Homo sapiens: one gene and its partners. The protein of the gene in region 4 purifies or fractionates together with the protein of the main gene of each other region. This does not show direct contact. Each region holds a gene or a part of one and is shown on either strand. Other genes may lie near its edges. The genes, in order: TEX2, SON, SLC12A4, MARCHF1, PPP6C, PNP and BPTF.

The links.
Region 1: the proteins of MARCHF1 (region 4) and TEX2 purify together in Homo sapiens (affinity purification with mass spectrometry; one large-scale study listed by BioGRID and IntAct). This does not show direct contact.
Region 2: the proteins of MARCHF1 (region 4) and SON purify together in Homo sapiens (affinity purification with mass spectrometry, with the first as the bait; one large-scale study listed by BioGRID). This does not show direct contact.
Region 3: the proteins of MARCHF1 (region 4) and SLC12A4 purify together in Homo sapiens (affinity purification with mass spectrometry; one large-scale study listed by BioGRID and IntAct). This does not show direct contact.
Region 5: the proteins of MARCHF1 (region 4) and PPP6C purify together in Homo sapiens (affinity purification with mass spectrometry, with the first as the bait; one large-scale study listed by BioGRID). This does not show direct contact.
Region 6: the proteins of MARCHF1 (region 4) and PNP purify together in Homo sapiens (affinity purification with mass spectrometry, with the first as the bait; one large-scale study listed by BioGRID). This does not show direct contact.
Region 7: the proteins of MARCHF1 (region 4) and BPTF purify together in Homo sapiens (affinity purification with mass spectrometry, with the first as the bait; one large-scale study listed by BioGRID). This does not show direct contact.

What each region holds. Positions count from the first base shown.
Region 1 is NC_000017.11:64,256,761-64,260,260, forward strand, and holds part of TEX2 (testis-expressed protein 2), read right to left. Parts: intron 1-3,500. UniProt on the Homo sapiens protein: During endoplasmic reticulum (ER) stress or when cellular ceramide levels increase, may induce contacts between the ER and medial-Golgi complex to facilitate non-vesicular transport of ceramides from the ER to the Golgi complex where they are converted to complex sphingolipids, preventing toxic ceramide accumulation.
Region 2 is NC_000021.9:33,570,538-33,574,037, forward strand, and holds part of SON (protein SON), read left to right. Parts: intron 1-2,013; exon of another isoform or gene 2,014-2,093; intron 2,094-2,770; coding exon 2,771-2,918; intron 2,919-3,500. UniProt on the Homo sapiens protein: RNA-binding protein that acts as a mRNA splicing cofactor by promoting efficient splicing of transcripts that possess weak splice sites.
Region 3 is NC_000016.10:67,955,138-67,958,637, reverse strand, and holds part of SLC12A4 (solute carrier family 12 member 4), read left to right. Parts: intron 1-593; coding exon 594-740; intron 741-841; coding exon 842-896; intron 897-3,500. UniProt on the Homo sapiens protein: Mediates electroneutral potassium-chloride cotransport when activated by cell swelling. May contribute to cell volume homeostasis in single cells. May be involved in the regulation of basolateral Cl(-) exit in NaCl absorbing epithelia.
Region 4 is NC_000004.12:164,374,020-164,377,519, reverse strand, and holds part of MARCHF1 (E3 ubiquitin-protein ligase MARCHF1), read left to right. Parts: intron 1-3,500. UniProt on the Homo sapiens protein: E3 ubiquitin-protein ligase that mediates ubiquitination of TFRC, CD86, FAS and MHC class II proteins, such as HLA-DR alpha and beta, and promotes their subsequent endocytosis and sorting to lysosomes via multivesicular bodies.
Region 5 is NC_000009.12:125,148,939-125,151,803, reverse strand, and holds part of PPP6C (serine/threonine-protein phosphatase 6 catalytic subunit), read left to right. Parts: intron 1-1,882; coding exon 1,883-2,131; 3' UTR 2,132-2,865.
Region 6 is NC_000014.9:20,472,406-20,474,997, forward strand, and holds part of PNP (purine nucleoside phosphorylase), read left to right. Parts: coding exon 1-72; intron 73-2,066; coding exon 2,067-2,170; intron 2,171-2,367; coding exon 2,368-2,543; intron 2,544-2,592. UniProt on the Homo sapiens protein: Catalyzes the phosphorolytic breakdown of the N-glycosidic bond in the beta-(deoxy)ribonucleoside molecules, with the formation of the corresponding free purine bases and pentose-1-phosphate.
Region 7 is NC_000017.11:67,940,503-67,944,002, forward strand, and holds part of BPTF (nucleosome-remodeling factor subunit BPTF), read left to right. Parts: coding exon 1-154; intron 155-3,500. UniProt on the Homo sapiens protein: Regulatory subunit of the ATP-dependent NURF-1 and NURF-5 ISWI chromatin remodeling complexes, which form ordered nucleosome arrays on chromatin and facilitate access to DNA during DNA-templated processes such as DNA replication, transcription, and repair.

The DNA of each region.
Region 1 (3,500 bases), on a different chromosome or scaffold from region 4:
AGATGCTCAAATACTTGCTGAATGACGATCACTGTTCAGTCAATCCTTTCAGTAAAAAGATTTTTAAATTCTCTATTTTGAGCCTAAAATAATAAATATAACCATCTATAAGAATACAGCCCAAAAGACAGCATGAGGTCCAAGAAAGGACTGAAAATTGAATAAGAAAACAAGCCAGCTTATGTCAGCTTTGAACAGCAAGAGAAATGAAACTTATAAAATGCATATTGGGATTCTGAAAGGTTATTTGCAGGAGCAATCCAACGGGTAGGTTTTAATCTCAGATCCTAAATAAGCTTATGACTGAAGCCAGCTCCTCTTGCCCAGTGCTGCTTTCAACTGTTAGAATAAGCTGGGGAGGCACTTAATGTGTTTGTTGCAATAATCTTCTTAGGGAAAAGCCCTTAGAACCAATATTCCAGGCAAATCCAGCAGACAAAGGTTACCTGGTTGTTTCAAAGCCCACCCACATTTCCCATTCTCCCAGCTTCCACACAGAAAGGTTAGATTCTTCTCTCAATAGTCCCATTTATGCTCACAGTGACCTGGCACATGGCTTTTGTTCACCAAAGAAAAGCCTTTCCTTTCAAGGACTTAAGTCTTCTGCAATAAGAGTTAATTCTTTAAGTTTAACAAAGTTCTCCCAATACAAGTAGTCCCCACTTATCTGCAGTTTCCGTCACCCATAGCCAACCAAGTTCTGAAAATATCAAATGGAAAATTGCAGAAATAAACAATTCGCAAGTTTTAAACTGCATGCCATTCTGGGTAGTGTCATGAAATTTCTCACTGTCCAATCCCATCCTGCCCAGGATGTGAATCCTCCCTTTGTCCAGCAGATCCACGCCGTAGGCGCTACCTACTCATTAGTCACCTTTAGCTGTCTCAGTTATCAGATCAACTGTCACCATATTACAGTTCTTGTGTTCAAGTAACGCTTATTTTACTTAATAACAGCCCCAAAGCACAAGATTAATGACGCTGGCAATTTGGATACGCCAAAGTGAAGCTGTAAAGTGCTTCCTTTAAGTGAAAAAGTCAAACTTCACAACTTAGGAAAGGAAAAAATCTTGTACTGAGGTTGCTAAGATCTATGTTAAGAATGAATCTTCTATCTCCGAAAATTGTGAACAATATGTGGTTGTTATAACCGTTCTTTTTTTTTTTTTGAGATGGAGTCTCGCTCTGTCGCCCAGGCTGGAATGCAATGGTGCAATCTTGGCTCACTGCAACCTCCGCCTCCTGGGCTCAAGCGATTCTCCTGCCTCAGCCTCCTGAGTAGCTGGAACTACAGGTGCACACCACCACACCTGGCTAATTTTTTGTATTTTGGTAGAGATGGGGTTTCACTGTGTTGCCCAGGCTGGTCTGGAACTCCTGAGCTCAGGCAATCTGCCCACCTCAGCCTCCCAAAATGCTGGGATTACAGGTGTGAGCCACCGCACCTGGCCCAACTGTTCTATTTTTATTAGTTATATTGTTAATCTCTTACCGTGTCTAATTTATAAATTAAACTTTATTATAGGTATACATGCATAGGAAAAAAACGTGGTGTATATACGGTTCAGCACTATCCATGGTTTCAGGCATCCACTGGGGAGCAACATAAGCCAGTATTCTAGGCCCAGCTATCAGTCCTTGACCTTGCTGTGTAATCTTGGAAAGTTATTTAACCTTTCTGAGCCTCAGTTTTCTCATCTTAAAATAAGATTGATAATAGTATCTACTATTCATAGGGTGGTATAAAGTTTAAAGGTAGGAACAGTGCCTGGCACACGATTCCCCGTAAATGATAGTTACTCACATTGTTATCACCTGCGTATTGTTTTGTTTTTCAAAGCACTATCACAAACACCTGAGACTTCAAAAGTCCTGAATACAATCATTTTCTTTCAATTGTTTAATTTCTCAGATTCTTAGAATCATAAACTCATATAATCTATGAGACTGCTAGCAGTAGGGGATGGCACTAAGAAATCAACTCTTCATTTTGGAAGAGAGACTTTTTTTTTTTTTTTAAACAGAGTCTCACTCTGTCACCCAGGCTGGAGTGCAGTGGTGCGATCTCGGCTCACTGCAACCTCTACCTCCCAGGTTCAAGCGATTCTCCTGATTCAGTCCCAAGTAGCTGGGACTACAGGCATGTGCCACCACGCCTGGCTAATTTTTGTATTTTTAATAGAGCCAGGTTTTCACCATGTTGGTCAGGCTGGTCTTGAACTCCTGACCTCAGGTGATCCGCCTCCCAAAGTGCTGGGATTACAGGCATGAGCCACCGCGCCCTGTCCTGGAAGAGAGACTTTTAAAAGTCCAAATTAGTGAAGTGACGCGCAGCTGGTATCCTGCCTTGCTGCCCAGTGCAATTTTGGGTGATCCACGCAGCCATTGGGAAATATGTTTCTAATGGTGAAGCAGGGATGACAGGTGAAACTGTCAGGACTGTAGCCTTCTGACTCCAAGTCTAGTGTTCTCTCCACCCCACCAATGCCAGTCAAGGGCTTCTGAACTTTCATGACCTCCTAGCATCCCTCTCATTAATGGTGCTTCATGGACATTTCACGCAGTGTAATTACGCATTATAAAGAGTTTGGAAAGGAGCAACACAAAATCTTGTATAACCTATGAGTTGCTTTAAAACTCACATGTAAGAATATTCACAACAGCATGGGCTTCCAGTCTTCTTATTACAATATTTACTTTAAACTTGGGATTTAAAGTTGACAAAGACCTTAATGAATAGGAAGACAAAGGGAGCTGTCTGTCCATGGCTCGTTAGCTCCTGAAGTTAATGTTTCTCACAGGGACAAGAGTCAGCCAAAGGATAGTGCTCTAGGCAAATTGGAAAATGTTCCTCCAGCCACAAACCATGGATTATTGCCTAGGCGTTGAGTGGCAAATCTTACGAGATGCTTCCCAGCTTTTCCCAGTTAACCATTCATCCTGTCAGTGGACAGCATGACCTGTTATTGGGTGCTCACTAGAACCAGGGACATAAGTGATCTCATTTAATTCTTACAACTACCTATAAATAATATACTACCCTAGTTCATCTAAGACCATTGACTATAAGACACACTGTTATTTTATGTGCCAAAAAAGGAAGCCACTGCTGACTACAAGTCTAAGACCCCATACATTACAAGATGCTTTTTTTCCCCAGGAATGTTAACATTACATAAATTACACTGTCTTAGCATTGTTGAAATGGGAATATTTTCCCACTTTACAAAGAAACTGAGGTACACAGAAAGAGAAGTAATTTACCCTTAAGGTCACAGAGCTGGTAAGCAGAGCACAAGGATACAGACCCAGTCAGTCCAGTCACCTTTTCATGGCAGTAAAAGATTTCCCAATAGCCTCGTGAATTACTCAAAACTGCACTTGGCAGAGAGACAGACATCGGCATCTAACTCTGGCTCCAGCAGGAGCACAGGAGCTCATTAGTGCAGCAATTCTCTGAACATCTCTGAACCTGACCACTCTGAACATGTCCACTCAAG
Region 2 (3,500 bases), on a different chromosome or scaffold from region 4:
AATAAAGGGTGAAAATGTATATAGCAAAATATTTTAAAGATTGGATTAATCTTGGACTTCTATATTATAGTTACTATGAAAGTGATTTATATAATATTTGAAAAAATGTCTTTCATCTTTGGAAGAACTATAAATGTACATCTATTTCTTTAGTTTTAATTCTTTAATACTATTTAGTCTTGAAGCTAAGTACTCAGCCAGTATTTCAGGAAGTTAGAAATAAAGCTTATGGGTGTTAAAATAGGCACATAATACAGAGTCATGTACACTGCTAGGTAGAAACTTCTGAATGTGCTTCCATTACAAAATTTTGGTCTTTATCTAATGATGTGCTGATCCATAATGTTTGTATACTTATAAATGTGTTAATAACTTAAATAACTTTTAAAAAGTGAATCTTTTACTGACTCAATTGGTTTTCCCCTAAAATAATTTCTTCTGGTATTTGCAGTCTTGTAGGCAGTTAACAGACTTTAATAACTTTAAAATGTTTAGTAGCACCTTGAAAAAAGGCTTCAACTTTATATTTTATGTAAGATATACTTTGGGAAGCAAATTATTTTGATAAATTATGAGATAAAGATATGTTCAGACCAAATTTTAAATTATAGATAAAAGTAGCACTTAAAGGAAAAGATTCATTTGTATAGAATTACTGAAGAATATTTGATGCTAGTATCAACTAAAAAAGAAACTTTTGAAAATTAAAAATGGGCCACAACATGTAGAAGTCATTAGGCAGCTGAAAATTTAGGATGTATGATCCATGTTAAATATCACAAATATTGTCTACTCATTAAATGTTTAGTTGTGTTTAGAAAACCTGTCAAACGATCATTTTGGCTCTTCTTTAGTATAGTCCAGCATCTGCCTTATGTGTTAAAAAACACATGGAATACCAACATCCTCCGTGTTCTTTTTAGTTTGTTGCAGTGTATTTTTAGATTACAAAAAAAGCAAAGTTTTATCAGTAGTCTCATTAATCAGTAAAACATTTAAAGTAGTTCGTTTAAAAGAAATTTTATTTCTAGAATGGAATGATTTGGATGTGACCTGATAAATACAGTTTGTTATTGTGGTCTCATTAAATTAATCAGCTTTTTCACACTGGGGTAAAGAAACAGATGATGATACTAGGGAATGGAAACAAAATTGGAAACCTGGGTTATTTGGGGATTTATATTGTACTCTGCACAGTTGCCCTTTTTTTTAGGCGTGTTCCCTGGAAAAGAGGGACGGATGAACCTGGAAGTAAGTAAAAGACATTCTAGGTGTGTAGCATCAAGGCAGTTAATATCCAAGCATCAGCTTTCTCTTTATACATCTACACTGCATGGCCTGCACCAAATAAGGAACTGAACCAGGGGTATGTTTTTACCTCCACAGCTGCCTCCTTCCATCAGAGCACCTTGATGAACTTAATGTCTAGTCACACGTCATTGGCATGTTTTCTCCCCAGCATTTAATTACAAAGCTGGGAAACAAAAGATGATAGATACAGTTTTACTACTGCATACAAACATTTCTTTTTTACATTCAGTATTAACTTATCAATATAGGAGATGTGCATACTATTTCCTGAGCTACTGAAGTTTTTTTACTCTCTCTGTTGATAAGTTAATGACTTTTGCTATATTATATATTTATATATATATATATATATATATTTGGTAAGAGAACATAAAAACCTAAAATTTAGTAACAAGGGGAAAATAAAGCATGATTTGGAGATATGTTTCAAATTTTTAAAAAATGACCATAAAGATCAACAGTACAACTTAATACTGTTTGCTATATGTACATGGATGCCCTTTAATAAGAGGCATTGAATATTTCTTAACCTGTAAAAATAACTGTTGACCATGCTAATGTATATATACTTGTGCATCTTAGGACATTAAGTGGTTTGCTGCTTTGATGGAAATTATGGTTCAGTGGGTTGGATACAAGAGAGATGACTGTTCACAGAATAACCTGTGAACTTTCACCCCTCTGTATGGAAACTTGTTTCAGGGCCAAATCCTTGTAGCTGTCTTCTTGCCCCGGTCAGTGCCAGCCGTACTATTCACAACACTGCTGCTACCGAGGCCTAGGTATGTAAACATTTAAGGAGTTTTTTAAAAGTCTTTTAACATCAAGCTAGGTTTTAAAAGAATTCAAATTCATTTTGGCATACTTACAGGATATTTTATGTGATTGTTTTCTATTTGTTACTGTGTAAATTTCAAGAGTTTTTTTTTTTTTTTCTGCTTTAGGGATTTTCTAAGTAAAATATTTATACTTGCTTTATAGTAGAATGGGGAAGAAAACTTTGGATGACAACAGTATGCTTCTTCAGTGTCTAAACTATTTCTAAGTGATTTCTGGGCTTTATTCATAAACTAGGTACACCTGGGACAATTAATATCATTGATTGTTTTAACATTGCCTTCTTTTTATTTTGCAAGCTAAGAAGAGATACCAGTGAACCTAAATAGTGGACGAAAACAGGAGTGTTCTAATTTTTTTTTTTTGAGGGGGGCACGAGGGCTACTGTTTCAAAACTGCCATTTACTTGTCTTATTTGACTTCCAAAATACTATTACGTTAATGTGCAAATAATCAGAACATACACACTACAGTATGTATAAAGTATAGAGGAATTTACATTTAATTGCTATAACAGATCTAGAAGTAAAGTAAGATTCCTCTTTTTAGAAAGTAAACAATGAATCTGTCACCAAGTTCTAACTGTAAAATGGGGACATTTTACCTTTCTTTCTTTGGATAGGATCAGTTCTTAAGAGCAGCCCCGGTAACTGGAGGAATGGGAGCCGTTTTGATGAGAAAAATGGGCTGGAGAGAAGGAGAAGGATTAGGAAAAAACAAAGAAGGCAATAAGGAACCCATCCTAGTTGATTTTAAGACAGACCGAAAAGGTAACAAGTTCTTTTTTGGAATGTTTATTAACGTCTCCTTTAACATTACCTTTAATATATCCTTTTGAACCCAGTGATACTGAACTGAAGGCACTTCTTGTATATATACAGGTATTTGTCAGAAAAAACATTAACCCCTTTTGGGGTTCACAGAGCAGCTTATTTTTATATAACTATGGATAGAGACACCAGTTTGAACTTTTAAAAGGCACCTTTTGTTATGCTAGTTGCTAAATATGGAAATGTGTATATATCTAATTTTATTATTACACCTCCAAATTCAACTGGATTTCATGTTTAGAAAACAGGATTTCCATTTTATTTTCTCTTGACAAGGAACCATCCTTTTTTCTAGAGTTTAGTTTATTTTTTGTTAGATATTTTAGCACATCTTCATTATTTCCTATTACAATACTGGTTTAGTCTAGATTTCATAAACCCTGTTTGCTTTTTTCTTCCAAGCTCAGTAGTTAAGTTGGGTTAGAGTATAGTAGACCAGCTGCTGACAATAATGTTACTTCTTCCTGTTGCCTTGTGTTAAGGCATCTTGGAACTGTTAGCATTGACTGTATTTTCCTTTTA
Region 3 (3,500 bases), on a different chromosome or scaffold from region 4:
TTTCAGCATGGGTGATGAGATTAGACTTGCTTTCAGAGACCTACTATAGCAGCAGAGTGGGCTGGAGTGTGGAGAGGTTGACAGGCTCAGGAGGGTACCACCCAGGTGCCCCAGGTTCAAGGGACTAAGGCTGGGACAAGGCAGGCTGATCTCAGGGCAGCAGGGAGACAGACTGGGTAGGAGTTAGTGTCTACCGGGACTAGAGTTGGGGGTTGAGAGGGAGGGCCAGGGATGACTTCTGGGACTTTGGCTTGGGTGACTTAGGGCCTGCTGGGTGAGAAGGTGGAGATCTGAGACAAACCTCTCTTTCTAGAAGTTTAACAGAAGAGAGGAAGGGAAGGAGGCAGTACCTTGAGAGAGAGTTAAGGTTCCAAAGTTCAATGTGGGTTTTTAAAAAGAATCAGGTTTTACACCTTCCCAGACTCAACTGTCTTCCTATATGAAAGTCAATAGAGACATCCTAGCTGTCACCCCTACTCTCTGTGTTCCCTGGGGCCCCACTGGGGGAGGGGGCCTGCTGAGTGACTAGGGCTGACTCTCCATGGTGCATCCCTCTGATGCTCTACTCGCCCCCTCCCTTTGTGTTCGCATAGGCACCCAGCATGGGCACCCTCATGGGGGTGTACCTGCCCTGCCTGCAGAATATCTTTGGGGTTATCCTCTTCCTGCGGCTGACCTGGATGGTGGGCACAGCAGGTGTGCTACAGGCCCTCCTCATCGTGCTTATCTGCTGCTGTTGTGTGAGTGTCCTGGCGTGGGAGGGTTGGGCTGGGCATGGGCCACGGCTGCCCCCACAGAGCCCACCCAGCTGAGCCGCTCACCCAGGCCCTCCTTCCCACAGACCCTGCTGACGGCCATCTCCATGAGTGCCATCGCCACCAACGGTGTGGTTCCAGGTCAGTGAGCGCCACCCAAGGCCTGGTGGAAGAGAAAAGGACCCAGTATCTGCCTTGACCTACCTGGGAACCCCCATAGCACACCCCTGCCCCAAGCAGTTCTGTAGTGGGCTCCCAATCCCTGATGCCAGGACAGTGCCCACGTAGGAGCTTTCCTGCTTGACAGAGTTGGAGAGTGCCATTGTGGTTTTTGTTAATATAAAAGCAATACCAAAAAAGAAAAAAAAAGGGCAATGTATGTTTACTGTAAGAGGGTTTGAAAGTGCAAAAAAAGGCCAGGCGCGGTGGCTCATGCCTGTAATCCCAGCACTTTGGGAGGCCGAGGTGGGTGGATCACAAGGGCAGGAGATCGAGACCATCCTGGCCAACACGGTGAAACCCCATCTCTACTAGAAATACAAAAAATTAGCCGGGCGTGGTGGCGGGCGCCTGTAGTCCCAGCTACTCGGGAGGCTGAGGCAGGAGAATGGCGTGAACCTGGCAGGCAGAGCTTGCGGTGAGCCGAGATTGCACCACTGCACTCCAGCCTGGGCGACAGAGCGAGACTCCGTCGCAAAAAAAAAAAAAAAAAATTAGCCAGGCATGGTGGTGGGCACTTGTAATTCCAGCTACTTGGGAGGCTGAGGCAGAGAATAGCTTGAACCCAGGAGGCAGAGGTTGCAGTAGTGAGCCAAGATCATGCCACTGCACTCCAGCTTGGGTGACAGAGCAAGACTCCATCTCCAAAATAAATAAATAAATAATAAAAAAGTGCAGAAAGGTATAGAATGGAAAATTAAAAGCACCCATAATCCCACCATCCTGAAATCACTACTGTTCGCCTTTTGGTATATATAAGTCTTAGGGTCTTATGAAGTATTGCACACGCACACTCTATTTACATAAATTGTATATATATATATATATATGTGTGTGTGTGTTTGTGTGTATTTCCCAAAAGTATATGTGTGTATATATACATATGCATTTATGTGTATATGTTTACGTGTGTATGTGTGTGTGTATGTTTCCCAAGTGTTGAAAACAGTTTTTTGATTTTGGTTTTTTGGGTTTTTTTTGAGACAGAGTCTCTCTCTGTCACCCAGGCTGGAGTGCAGTGGCATGATCTCAGCTCACTGCAACCTCCATTTCCCAGGTTTAAGCAATTCTAAGTGATTCTCATGCCTCAGCCTCCTGAGTAGCTGGGATTACAGGCGACCACCACATTTTTGTATTTTTAGTAGAGACGAGGTTTCACTATGTTGGCCAGGATGGTTTCGAACTCTTGACCTTAACTGATCCACCCACCTCTGCCTCTCAAAGTGCTGGGATTACGGGTGTGAGCCACTGCACCCTGCCGAAAATGGTTTTTTGAAAACAGGATTCTCCATGGTACACCATAACCTAATTAATGTGATTATTCTCCTGCCTGTGGGTTCCACTTTTTCACCATTGTATACATTGTTGTCATGAACATCCTTGAACATGAATCTTTGTTCATGCCCCAGCAGTTCCCTTAGGAGAGGGTCCTGGAGGTGGATTACGGCATGAAAAAGATTGACTTTTCGTTTATTTATTTATTTATTTATTTTGAGACGGAGTGTGTCGCCCAGGCTGGAGTGCAGTGGCACGATCTCAGCTCACTGCAATCTCCACCTCCCAGGTTCAAGCGATTCTCCTGCCTCAGCCGCCCGAGTAGCTGGGATTACAGACATGCACCACCATGCTCAGCTAATTTTTGTATTTTTAGTAGAGATGGGGTTTCACCATGTTGGCTAGGCTGGTCTCAAACTCCTGACCTCAAGTCATCTGCCTGCCTCAGCCTCCCAAAGTGCTGGGATTACAGGCGTGAGCCACTGTGCCCAGCTGACATTTTTTTTTTTTTGAGACGGAGTCTCACTCTGTCGCCAGGCTAGAGTGAAGTGGCATGATCTCGGCTCACTGCACCCTCTGCCTCCCAGGTTCAAACGATTCTCCTGCCTCAGCCTCCTGAGTAGCTGGGACTACAGGTGCACACCGCCACGCCTAGCTAATTTTGTATTTTAGTAGAGACGGGGTTTCATCGTGTTGCCCAGGCTGGTCACGAACTCCTGAGCTCAGGCAGTCCACCCATCTCAGCCTCCCAAAATGCTGGGATTACAGATGTGGGCCACTGCACCCGGCCTTTTTTTAAAAATGTATATTTTTATCATTTCCTTTTTTTAGTAGAGACGGGGTCTCGCCATGTTGCCCAGACTGGTCTGGAACTCCTGAGCTCAAGCAATCCACTCACCCCAGCCTCCCAAAATGCTGGGCTTACAGGCATGAGCCACCACGCCCAGCCAAGATTGACTCTTTGAAAGAATTTCTTGATCCCTGTTCCCAGATTTTCACCAGAGACATTGTCTCAGCAGCAGATACAACCAGCAACATGAGATGACTCTTGTCCCCCTGTGCTTGTCACCCTGGGGCCTGGTCATGACTCTCTGAGTCTTTTAAGGGTGTTAGACTTTGATAGAAGCACAGATTCAGGGCAGGGAGCCGTGGACACTCACCTGGTGGCAGGCACTGTGCGGGGCCTTAGGGCCAAAAGGCTGGATGAGACAGTCCCTCCTCTGGTCTGGAGGAGTCAGACTAACAAAGGCA
Region 4 (3,500 bases):
GCTACATTTATGGAGTGAAAAATGTGTGAAGTCTGGAGTCTCCCTCTTCTTAGAAACAACTGTCCTATTTTTCCAACTGTTGGCTCTGAAAAGCAACTGATACAGACTGATTTCTTGTGAAATACATACAATAGTGTTAACAAGCTAGTACTATGTTTATCTCTTTTCTTATTGGTATATGGATAAAACTCAGAACGTATTTCTAGACCAATTCACGGAAATATAGTTAATTCAGGTTATACCTGAAGTAGATTGTTAGAGATATATGATTTAAATTAACTGTGCTTTTATGGATTGACCTAGAATTTTTGTTAAGTCTGCCTGGTGACGGATGGATTGAACTATTACATGTAATGTTATTTTTGAGTGACTTGTATGTTGCAGGTAACATATTCCAGATAACATATTCCAGAAATCACTGACTATTTGGGACACAATGATTGGAAGTCGGAGAATGCCTGGAATAGATTCTTGTGCCTGCCTTCAATTCAGTGTCCTGAGGCACATCAGGAGATAAATGGAAGCTTGGTGAGAGTGATAAATTAGGTACTGACATTGAGGCTCATTGGGGCTGACTGTGGTGAGCAATGATCTGATTCTCATGAAGTATATCACATGCTTTTTGGACCCTGCCGGATGTCCTGTCAATCTCACATCTGTTTCTGGCTCTGGCTCGGGCAATCATTGTAGGCAGCCTTTGACTCAGTTGTGCTATTTCCCATCTCAAGCTTGCGCTGAGTATCTTTCACTTTCTTTTCTGTGACTTTACTAGCATGTCTTATCTTTCCCCCTGCTTCTGACCGTGGTCCATGCAGCCTGGAAGTGAGGAGGAGCTAACACCACCATGGAGCCTCGCAGTCAGTGGGAATGGGTGGATAGTTCCGAGACGCACTCTGCAGCTCCTCATAAGGTCCAAGTGAGAAGGAGCCTCAACCGGCCATGGAAGTGACCCAACTGCATGCACCTGTATTAGCCTTTACTCTCTCCCTGGTTCACTTTACCCGGTGCCTCACTCCTACTCTCCGGGATCACCTTGTATTATTTGCACATAATTTTTTAGTTCAGACTCTGCTTTTGAAGAGAGCCTGGCCTAAGATTTATGACTTTCCTTCTCTAGAGAAAAATGAATAAGAGAAAGAAAAGCAGGACTAAATCATAAGCTACATCCATTACAATGAGAGAAAAAAAGAAAGAAGATAAAACATGTATTTTCAGAGATACTTTCTTTACAAATCTGTCATCTTTCAGATCACCAAGTGAGACCATTTAAATAATTTTTCTAGTAACTGTGAGGTCATCTGTTGACATAATGATTAATTTGCATCTCTTCCTTCTTTTTTACTATACTTTAATATGTAGTTATTGGCAGTCTACTCTATGCTCAACACTCAGCTAGGTCCTGGTAATGTAATGATGAGTGAAAGATGTGGCATGATTCCTGCCTCTTTGGAGCTTTTTATTTCTGTGAAATTAATTAAATAATCACACAAGCCAGTGCACATACGCAAAAGTGAGTATAATGAAGGCCAGATGCACAGTAATGGGGAAGCCTATTAGAGGGGAGTTTGACTCAGCCAGGGAGGTCTGGGGAAGCCTCCTTGAGGAGGTGACATTTTACCTGACATCTGAAGGAAGGGTTAATGAGGTGGAGAAAAAAGATAAAAATTTTCTAACAGAGGGAGAAATGAAGTGTGCTCAAGGTCCTACTGTTGGGGGAAGTTTGAAAGACTCACAGTCAGAGGGAGTGTGATGTAGGCTGAAGAGAGGTACTAAACATAAGGGACTGTCACAAAATATTTGCCATAGTAAGGAATTAATTGTACATGTGTGTGTGCATGTGTATGTGCATGTAGTAGGGGAGCAGTAAAAAGGTGCTAACAAATACAGACCATCTATTTGCAAAAAAGAAATGTATGAATCTGGGAAGAATGTTGTATCGAATATGCAGCCTAGCAAATATTAAGAGTTATGAACATTTGAATCAAATAAAAGTTGTAGGAGTTATCATTTAAAGTTAGAGAACTTCTAAAGAAATAGAGTTGAAAGAAAGGAGAATGAACTATTTATTTATTTATTACTCAATGTATTTGTTCCAGCTCATGGTGATGATACCTTAAGGACTACCTACAAGGCTTTTAAGTTCCATATAACTAAGTAGTTTTTACATAGTTATAAAATTTATATATTTTTGCTAGTTATCTATTAATTTTTAGAGTGGTAGAATTATGGGTAGATATTTTCTTTTAAAAGTACAACATTTCAATTAAAATTTTACTTGATTTATTTTAATAGTGTAACACACAAAGGTCTATTAGATGTTACTGAAGCATAGCACATAGCCACATTTAATTATTCATTCTGGAATCAGCTTTTGTATTTAGGTTTTAATGAAGTTAAATTGCCTCTATACTCACATGAGTTTGGATTTTGGTTCTGCTAAATTCTCCCAAATTTGAAATTCGATCAATTAGAGACAAATTATTTTCCACTTAGAGCTATATTTCCTTTAACATTTCTTAGCAATTTTGTTTTCATGGAACCCAAAGTCAGGTCCCAGGCACCCTGTGAAATGACCCTTTAATATTTAGCATAATATATACAATAAGTTCTTGCCAGCTCTCTTTCCTTTTTAATAAGATAACTTGGTTTATTTATAGCTTATGTTTAAACTTAATCTTTTATGAAATCTTTTAACCTCATGAGTATGTCTTATTTTAGAAACCTTTACTAAATAAATGGATAAACAAGTATTTATTAAGTAACTACTACATGAAAGAAAGATTCTGTGCCATTAACAATAGCAGAGAATTAAAGAGATGGGGGAATCAATTTGACGCATTATTAAGATATTAAGTGACAAGTATAATATAGAAGGAAAAGTCTGATACTTTTTGGTTTGTTCCTTATGACATTCATGGTAGAGAAGATGAGTCTTAAGAAGTGATAATAGATGCTATTTCTATAGCTTTTGTTATGAGGATAAGCCATAGTTGTCAATTTTCAAAAATTGTTAAAAATGAGGCAGAAGGCTTTAATTTTTTGAAACATACATTACCCAGTAATGTCAAAAATAAAGGAAATGTTTATTTTACAAATAGGAAGTATTTTCAACTGTTAATAGTTGTCATAGGACTATCGTTAGCTTTTTGTCCCACTTTTTAAATTTCCCAAATACTTTTAGTAATAATAAGACTGAATTATTATCATAATAACAATTTAAATTAATAATTATTGGATTAAAAGATGAATATTAAAGCAAAACTTAAAAAAATGTTGACGTCTGTTAAATCTAATTAGTTTTCTTGTGGATTTTAAAAATACTTTTCTGAGTGTATAATTGTAATAAATTATATGTAGAGGAAAAAATGATGCGAAAATAATCCTCTGTTTCATGCTAATTTCTATTCTGTGGCAACACATCTAATGTGAACATTTATTTGAAAAATTTCCCTCAAAACAGTGTAAGAGAGAACTTATGCTGATAAATTGTTTTAAAGAAA
Region 5 (2,865 bases), on a different chromosome or scaffold from region 4:
GAAGCCAGAATGAGACAATGCAGATAGGAAGTCCCAGCAGTTAATCTCAATCCTTCTTTCTTCATTTCGGATAAGCTCAGATATACCTGATGTGGGATATAGAAAGCTACACTGGAGCAAGCTGGGTCTTCTGCTGAATTCGTCATCAAATACCAAGGGAAAACAAGGGGTGGGGTGGATTTTATTCTTAAAAAGCCTCAGAAGTTACTGTATTATAAAGGGACATGACTGAATAGGTAAGAAACGGATTCTTCATTGTGAATTTTCCTGATGGCTTCTGCAAGGCTCATAGAGATGTTGATCACCTGTATTTTGGAATGGTGCTTCATCTTGTCCTCCTGGGGTATGTTATTGGTGACTACTACTGCTTTAAAGCATGCGTTGTTGATGTGAGAAATAGCTGGACCAGAGAAGATTCTGTGAGTCAAGATAGCATAAACTTTGGTGACTCCAGCTGAGAGAAGTTTGTCAGCTGCATGGCAGATTGTGCCACAAGTGTCAACCATGTCATCCGCAAGGATGGCCACCAGATCCTTCACATCTCCCACAAGCACCATGCGGTCGACTTCATTGGCCTTCTTTGTGAATCAAGGCAAAGTCCACATTCAGCCTGTCTGCAATGGAGGTCACTCTCTTAGCTCCACCAGCATCAGATGAAACAATAGTGCAGTTCTTCTGCTCAGAGATATTCTCCCTTATCCACTTCAGGACACCTGGCTCTGCATACAGATAGTCCACTGGGTTATCAAAAAAGCCCTGAATTTGAGAAGCATGTAGGTCCATGGTGATAATATGATCTGCGCCTGCCACAGATAGCATGTTTGCAACAAGCTTGGCTGAGATTGTCACCTGACTCTTTATTATCCTGCTGGGCATAAGGGAAGCATGGGATGACTGCAGTAAGCTGGCTCGCTGAAGCAGTCTTGCAGGTATTAGTCATGATCAAAGGCACCATTAAATTGTCATTGATTTTGCCACAACCACTCTGAATGATGTAGACATCCTTTCCACGTACACTTTTGCCAATTTCCACACAGGTCTCCTAGTTGCTGAATTTCTCAATCACTGCCTTGCCGAGCTCCAGGCCCAGGCGATCGGCAGTTTTCTGAGATAAGCCCTGGTGGGAGCTGCCGCTGAAGATTTTGATATTCAGGATCCTGGCCAACTACCCTAAGCACTCTTCACTAAGTGATCACTGCTGCTGCAGAGACTGCAACCAAAGTCGGCCCAGAGACTCAATACTAATCTCTTTGCGATGCTACTCCGCCATCTTCAAGATAGGCAGTACTTTGAACTTTCAACTGTTTTCAGTTAAAACACACACACACACTTTGAACTTTCAACTGTTTTCAATTAAAACACACACACACACACACACACACCCCTTATATTGGGAAGTGCTCCAGCATCATAATGAAGTCAAAAAACTAGATTCTGATCCTGCATCAGTGTATCTTAATTTAGATAAGTTATTTATCTAGTCTGAGCTTTTGTTTCCTTAAGTTGCAAAAGAATAATCTCTTTCAGAATTATTGCAACATCTACATATACTAAACCTTCAGTAAATGGTAGATACTGATAGCAATATCTTTATTATTAAATCAGAAAACACAAAATTTTGTTTCATAGTACCTATTGAATGCTTTTTCTTCCAGAAATTTCTAACTGTTTATGTAGCTGTACAGTTTCCATAGTTGTGCACTTGACTCAGGCCAAAATTGCTGTTTGCCTAAACTTATTAAATTGTTGGAGATAATTATAGAGTGCGTTCTATAATCTTGATGCCTTTAGTAGTAATAGGATTTGGTATTTTATTTAAATGATTATGTAGGCCGATTGTTTTTTAAGTGCTAAGTACTTACAGTGCCTTTCTAAATTGCAGTTTGTTCATATCAACAACTTAAAACTCATCTGCAGAGCACATCAACTAGTGCACGAAGGCTATAAATTTATGTTTGATGAGAAGCTGGTGACAGTATGGTCTGCTCCTAATTACTGCTATCGTTGTGGAAATATTGCTTCGATCATGGTCTTCAAAGATGTAAATACAAGAGAACCAAAGTTATTCCGGGCAGTTCCAGATTCAGAACGTGTTATTCCTCCCAGAACGACAACGCCATATTTCCTTTGAGGCCTTCGCCCATCCTGCTGACCCATTTTTCTGCCCTCTTCTTACCCCAATTTTCTTGTATTACCCTCTACAATATACTTTTTATTGAGCACTTTGCTGCTGAAATGCTGCCTCTTGCCTTTTTTTTTTTAAATTTTAAATTATCTAAATTTATTGTTTGTTGTGGTGTCTATAGCAAAGTTTTTCTATCAATTTTCCCCCATCCCATCCCCACCCTGGACTCATTTGAGAAGACTTGAGAAATGTCTTAATACTCACACTGCTGCATGTAGCTCTTGCTTATTTACTGGTCTGGGAAACAGGATGTGTTTCCTTTTTTTAAAAGCCAATTGACAGATTACACCTAAATACTCCTCCTTTTGTATCATTCAGCCTTTTGTTTTAGTTTGGTAAGTTTTAAGAAATTTCAGCAGCAAAGTTGTTATTCAGTGGGCACGATGGACTCCAAATGCCTCAAGTTATGTATACCTGTCCCAGATGTAAACTTCATTGTCCTTTGTTGGATGATATTTTAAATGGATATAAAATAAATTGGTCTAAAGGGCTGCCCTCCTTGTTGTGTTTTTAAATTTTAGTTAAAAACTGCTACAGCTTATGACTTTGTACTTTAAGATAATTGTATTGATCTTTTTTCAGATTCCTTGTATTTTTTAATAAAGTAATCTTAAATAAAACTCAGATAGGTTAAGTGTTAGAAATTTTAAACAGCTTACATTGTTAGCGTAAAGTTATCT
Region 6 (2,592 bases), on a different chromosome or scaffold from region 4:
GTCTGACTGATAAATTAACTCAGGCCCAGATCTTTGACTACGGTGAAATCCCCAACTTTCCCCGAAGTACAGGTACTGGCAAGGGAAAGTGGGGAATGGGACTGAGGGATGTTCTTGGAATTCTGTGGAACACAACCAAGGAGGCCAATGTTTCTACTCCTTGACCTAGCATTTCACTGAAGACAAATGTTGTAAGAGAGGAGAAAAGCCCACCATGAGTCAGAGTGACTTTAGGAGATGCCTCTAGCAGACATCCCATAAGAGACAGGACATGTGTGTGTCAGTGGACTGAGGCTAAGACTCAGAAGAGGGCCAGGTGACAGGGGCCAAGTAAAGGGCAAGGGTTGTTTATTTGGTTTACGTAATTTCTCAAATAACTAACTTCTGTTGGTTTATTTATTAATTTTTAAGATTTCTATCTTCTTTTCCCTGGAGAGTTAAGAATTTTTTTTTAAGACCTGTCAGCAGGAAAAGACCTTTAATAGCTATTTTTTTAAACTCTTTAACACAAGACTGGAAGAGCAGAGGGAGAAGGTGAGGGAAATATTAACAGAGGGTGTGTGAAGGGCATACTTCTCTAAGGGAGATAGTAGTGACGCTGGCTCCACTGGCCACTCCTACCCCCAGTGAGAAGGGCACTGCATTAAATGATAAGTGGGTTAGTTTTTTTAAGCTTATCAACATGTTTATTTTTTATACTCCACTTGGGTTTCCTTTGTCAACTTTATTACTGTTTTTGTTTTGTTTTTTTGCATAAGCTCCTCTATCTTTGAGAATTTCTCAGCTCTTCCTCTTGGTTCTAGTCCCTCTCCCATTCCCTAAGGGATAGGTTGGCCGTCTATTAGAAGTGACTGCCAGATAAAAGAAATGGTAATAATGGCTGTTATGTCTGTGGGGAGTTATCTTTGCACTCCCACGCACCCCTCCGTGGGCATGTGTTCCCATAGGACTGTTCCGTGGGTCATAAGGAAAGAGACACTTGCATGCGTTCAAATTCTTTCCCCCTTGTTCAGTAGCCTCTTCTTTAAGAAGCCAGAGTAAGTATACTATGAGCTTGCTTGCTGGACTGAGGAGGCAGGTAATTAAGTTAGGGCAATAGATAAGAATACATGTTTTGAGAACTTTGAAAAATTTGAAGAGGTCTATAATTACTGCATTCACTGTACTCACTTTATTTTGAAACAGAGTCTCGCTCTGTCACCCAGGCTCGAGTGTAGTGTTGTGATCTCGGCTCACTGCAACCTCCACCTCCCAAGTTCAAGAGATTCTCCCACCTCAGCCTCCCGAGTAGCTGGGATTACAGGCATGTGCCACCACACCTGGCTAATTTTTGTATTTTTAGTAGAGATGAGGTTTCACCATGTTGGCCAGGGTGGTCTTGAACTCCTGGCCTGTTGATCCGCCTGTCTTGGGCTCCCGAAGTGCTGGGACTACAGGTGTGAGACACCGCACCTGGCCTATTTTTAATTTTAATTTTTATAGATTTACAGGGGTACAATGCAGTTTTGTTATATGGATATACTGCGTGGTGGTGACGTCTGTGCTTTAGTGTAACCATCACCTGAGCAGTGAACATTGTACTTATTAGGTAATTTCTCATCCCTCATCCCCATCCCACTTTCTCACCTTTCCGAGTCCCCAGTGTCTATTATTTCACTCTGTAGGTCCATATGTACACATTTGGTTCCCACTTATAAGTGAGAACATGTAGTATTTAATCTTCCATTTCTGAGTATCTACTTTTTTTGCTCACTTTTTACTCTCTGGCAGTATGGCTTGTATTATCTTGAAATTTCTTTAAAAAGCCCTTCCTTCTTTGTGTGTTCATGCTGAACATGCTGAACGCACCCCATATCTCTAATCTTGGGTTGTATTTGTATAATTATTAGTAATGCCTGGCTCTCTCACCAGACTTAAACTTTCTGAAAGCAGAGATAATAATGAGTCTTTTACTTAATTACAACCTAACATTTTGAGCAGAGCGAGTAACTCACAGTAGGTGCTTAATGGATATGTGTTGCATGAAAATATAATCCCATTCATTTCTCTTTCTGTTTTGTATACAGTGCCAGGTCATGCTGGCCGACTGGTGTTTGGGTTCCTGAATGGCAGGGCCTGTGTGATGATGCAGGGCAGGTTCCACATGTATGAAGGGTACCCACTCTGGAAGGTAAGTCAGAGGGATAGGTCCGGTTGGATCTGGAAGAGGCAGGAGAGAACTATCTAGCCTCTTTCACTACCTAGCTATCTGGGCTAGGTGGATTTTTGGTCCTCTCCTTCCTTTTCTTTCACGATGTATGTCATGCATTTCAGTGTAGCTGAATTAATGAAATTTTGTAAATTTTTTTCGGATTGTTTGCTTCGAAGGTGACATTCCCAGTGAGGGTTTTCCACCTTCTGGGTGTGGACACCCTGGTAGTCACCAATGCAGCAGGAGGGCTGAACCCCAAGTTTGAGGTTGGAGATATCATGCTGATCCGTGACCATATCAACCTACCTGGTTTCAGTGGTCAGAACCCTCTCAGAGGGCCCAATGATGAAAGGTATGTATGTTACTCCGTTTTTTTTAGGTGGGTAGGATTTAAAGACTTC
Region 7 (3,500 bases), on a different chromosome or scaffold from region 4:
CCCTAACACGGTTTCCTCAACACCTGGGCAGAAAAGCTTAACTTCAGCAACGTCCACTTCAAATATACAGTCTTCAGCCTCACAACCCCCTCGCCCCCAACAAGGACAAGTGAAGCTCACCATGGCTCAACTTACTCAGTTAACACAGGGCCACGTAAGTAACATAAGCTTTATTTTAACTTTAGAGGTGATCTTATTTATTCTTGCGGTAAGTTTAAAAACATGAACTTATTTTGATACGTTTTTAAATGTGCTGATTTGAAGAAATGGTTGCTTCCTGGAGTCAAGCAGAAATACCTCTTAGACAGGATATAATAAACCCCAACTACTAGAGTAATCTTTAGACAGTGAGCTAAAACAGTGAGACAGATAACCCTTTTAAACACCAAAATTTTATTAGTTGGCTAATCTCCATGAGACAAATAAAATTTGAGTACATTAAGCTGCTTCCTTGCAAGACTCGATATTGTTAGCAAGTCTTCTAATATTGATTAATAAATTGAATGCAGCTCCCATCAAAATCCCAAGAGGTTTTGTTTTTAGTGAAACTTCACAAGCTGATACTGAAAGTTTATATGGAGGTACAAAGTATTAAGAATATCTGTACCTTTGAAGAACAGGATTATTTGCCCTATATATGATAACTTGATATCAAAACTTAGTATAGGCTGGGCATGGTGGCTTGCGCCTGTAATCCCAGCACTTTGGGAGGCCAGGGCGGGTGGATTGCTTGAGGTCAGGAGTCTGAGACCAGCCTGACCAACATGGTGAAATTCCATCTCTGCTAAAAGTACAAACAAATTAGCTGGGCGTGGTGGCATGCGCTTGTAATCACAGCTACTCAGGAGGCTGAGGAAGGAGAATTGCTTGAACCTGGGAGGCGGAGGTTGTAGTGAGCTGAGATTGCACCACTGCATTCCAGCCTGGGTGACAAAGCAAGACTTCATCTAAAAAAAACCAAAAAACTTAGTATATAATACTTCACTAATTAATATAGTGAGGTACAGACATAAGGAGAGGCAGATAGACCAACAGAACAGTAGAGAGTGCAGAACATGAACCCCATGTATGTGGACACTTGTTATATGACAAAGGTGACATTGCAGATCATTGAGGAAGAGATGACTTTTCAGTAAATGGTGCCAGGACAATTGAATATACATGGGAAACTGTGAAATTGGACCATTATTACCTCACTCTACATAAACTCAATTCCAGGAGGATGAAAGTCCTAACTGTGAAAGGTAAAACTATAATACCTTTAGAAGATAGAAGAATATCTTCATAGCTTTCCTAAACAGATAGAAAATGCTAACCATAAATGAAAAGATTTATAAATTCAACTACTTTAAAAATAAGAGTAAGAACCTCTGTTCATCAAACTCACTACAGAGAGAGTGAAGAAAATGAGAAAAGAACCAACCAAGGACTATTACATATCCAGAATATATAAAGAATTACTACAAATCAAGAAAGAAAAAAATCCAGATAGATCAATAGGAAAAAAGACAAACAGGCAAGGTGCGGTGGCTCACACCTGTAATCCCAGCACTTTGGGGGGCCAAGGTTTTGGGAGGCCAAGCCAGGTGGATCACTTGAGGTCAGGAGTTTCAGACCAGCCTGGCCAACATGGGGAAACCCCGTTTCTACTAAAAATACAAAAATTAGTCAGGCGTGGTGGTGTACGCCTGTAATCCCAGCTGCTTGGGAGGCTGAGGCAGGAGAATTGCTTGAACCCAAGAAGCAGAGGTTGCAGCGAGCCAAGATATACCACTGCACTCCAACCTAGGCAACAGACTCCGTCTCAAAAAAAAGAAAAACAAAAAAAAAAGGACAAACCAACATTATGAGGAAAGAAGAAATCTAAATGTCCCAAATTCCAAAAAACTGCTGAACTTTATTAATAATGAGAGAAGTACATATTAAAACCATATGCTTAAGAGATTGGTACAAATTTAAATGTCCAACAAAACCAAGAGTTAGCAAAGACATAGAGCAGAAAGAATTCTCATGCACAGCTGGTGGGCCTATCAGTCGGTTCAGCCATTTTGGAAACTTCCTGGACATGGTCTGGTAAAGTCAAAGCTGTGTATGCCCAAGGTCCCAGTATACCTTCTAGGTATATCCCTAGAGAAGTTGTTGGCCATGTGAGCACCAGAATACATGGCATAAATATTGGTAGCAGCATTGTTCATAAGAATCAAAAACTAAGAACAACTCAGGTGTCTATCAAAATCAGTTAGCTAAGTAAATTGTAGTATATTCCTACAGCAATAAAAATGAATAGACTTCAGCCACACAGAACTATGCAGATGATTCTCACAAATATATAATGGTAAGCTAAAGAAGCAAGTAGCTGCCAAAAAAAATACATGTTATAATTTCATTTGTATAAGATTCAGAAATAGGCAAAACTAAGCTATTTTGTGTAGGGATACAGGGCTGCTGCATTGCCTGCCTGGAGGGGGCACTATTCCCATTGTATTCTTTGTGAATATTGCTCCTGAGTTTGTGAACCTCAGTGGCCTTATATATACCTAAGATACATACCGAAGTAGTAATGAAATACAGTGTTATCATCAAAGTGAGGATAGTGCTTACCTCTAGGGGAGAGGGAGGGAATTGAAATCCGGGTGAGTCATATGGGGACTTCTAGGACACTGGCAATGGTGACCACAGTGGCGGTTTTATAGATGTTTACTTTATAATTTTTAAATTATACTTGGTGTTTTGTGCATTTTGTGCATAAAAAATGTATTTTAGAAAAGCAAGAGTAAATAAGTTTTGAGGGATTCACATGTATATGGAGCTTACTTAGTACATGGACTTTGCGCCATCAGTTTTGGTCATTGGGAGTTTAGGGGATGGTTTTTACTTTTGCTTTCCAGTTCTCCAGCATGTTCCTGGTATTCAGGGTTTCTAGTTGAATTACAGTTCTGGACAGAAGAGAGAGCGCCTAGAGAATTTTAAATTTCTGGACCCCTTTTTGGTAACTGCTCAGACCTTAGTGATCCTCCTTACTTGGTGTTTGCATTACATATCTAAAACCCTAAGCTTTTTACAGTTTAGCACACACACACCCCATAGGTAATTTGGCACGTATTGAAAGACAAAATTCAGGAGATCTAGGTTCCTTCTTTTATCTCACCTTTAAGTTGGCCAGGGTACTTGACCTTTCTAACCTGAGTTTCTTAGTTGGGAATCAGAAGAATATTTTCTCTGCCTACCCCATAAAGTCACAAGTCCATTGTGAGAATCAAATGAGGCAGTATCTATGAAGATGCTTTTGAAATTGTAAAATATGAATATAAGATTATTTAAAATCAGAATTTTGTGGGGACTTTAGTTATTCAATACCTTTATTTTATAGATTGGGAAACTTGGATCTGGAGGAACAGTGTTGCTTGTGGACAGATAACTGGCTGACCATTGGGGGAGCTTGAACTGGAACTCTGGATTGTTGATGTTTTTCCTACTAAGCAACATAAATATTCTTACTT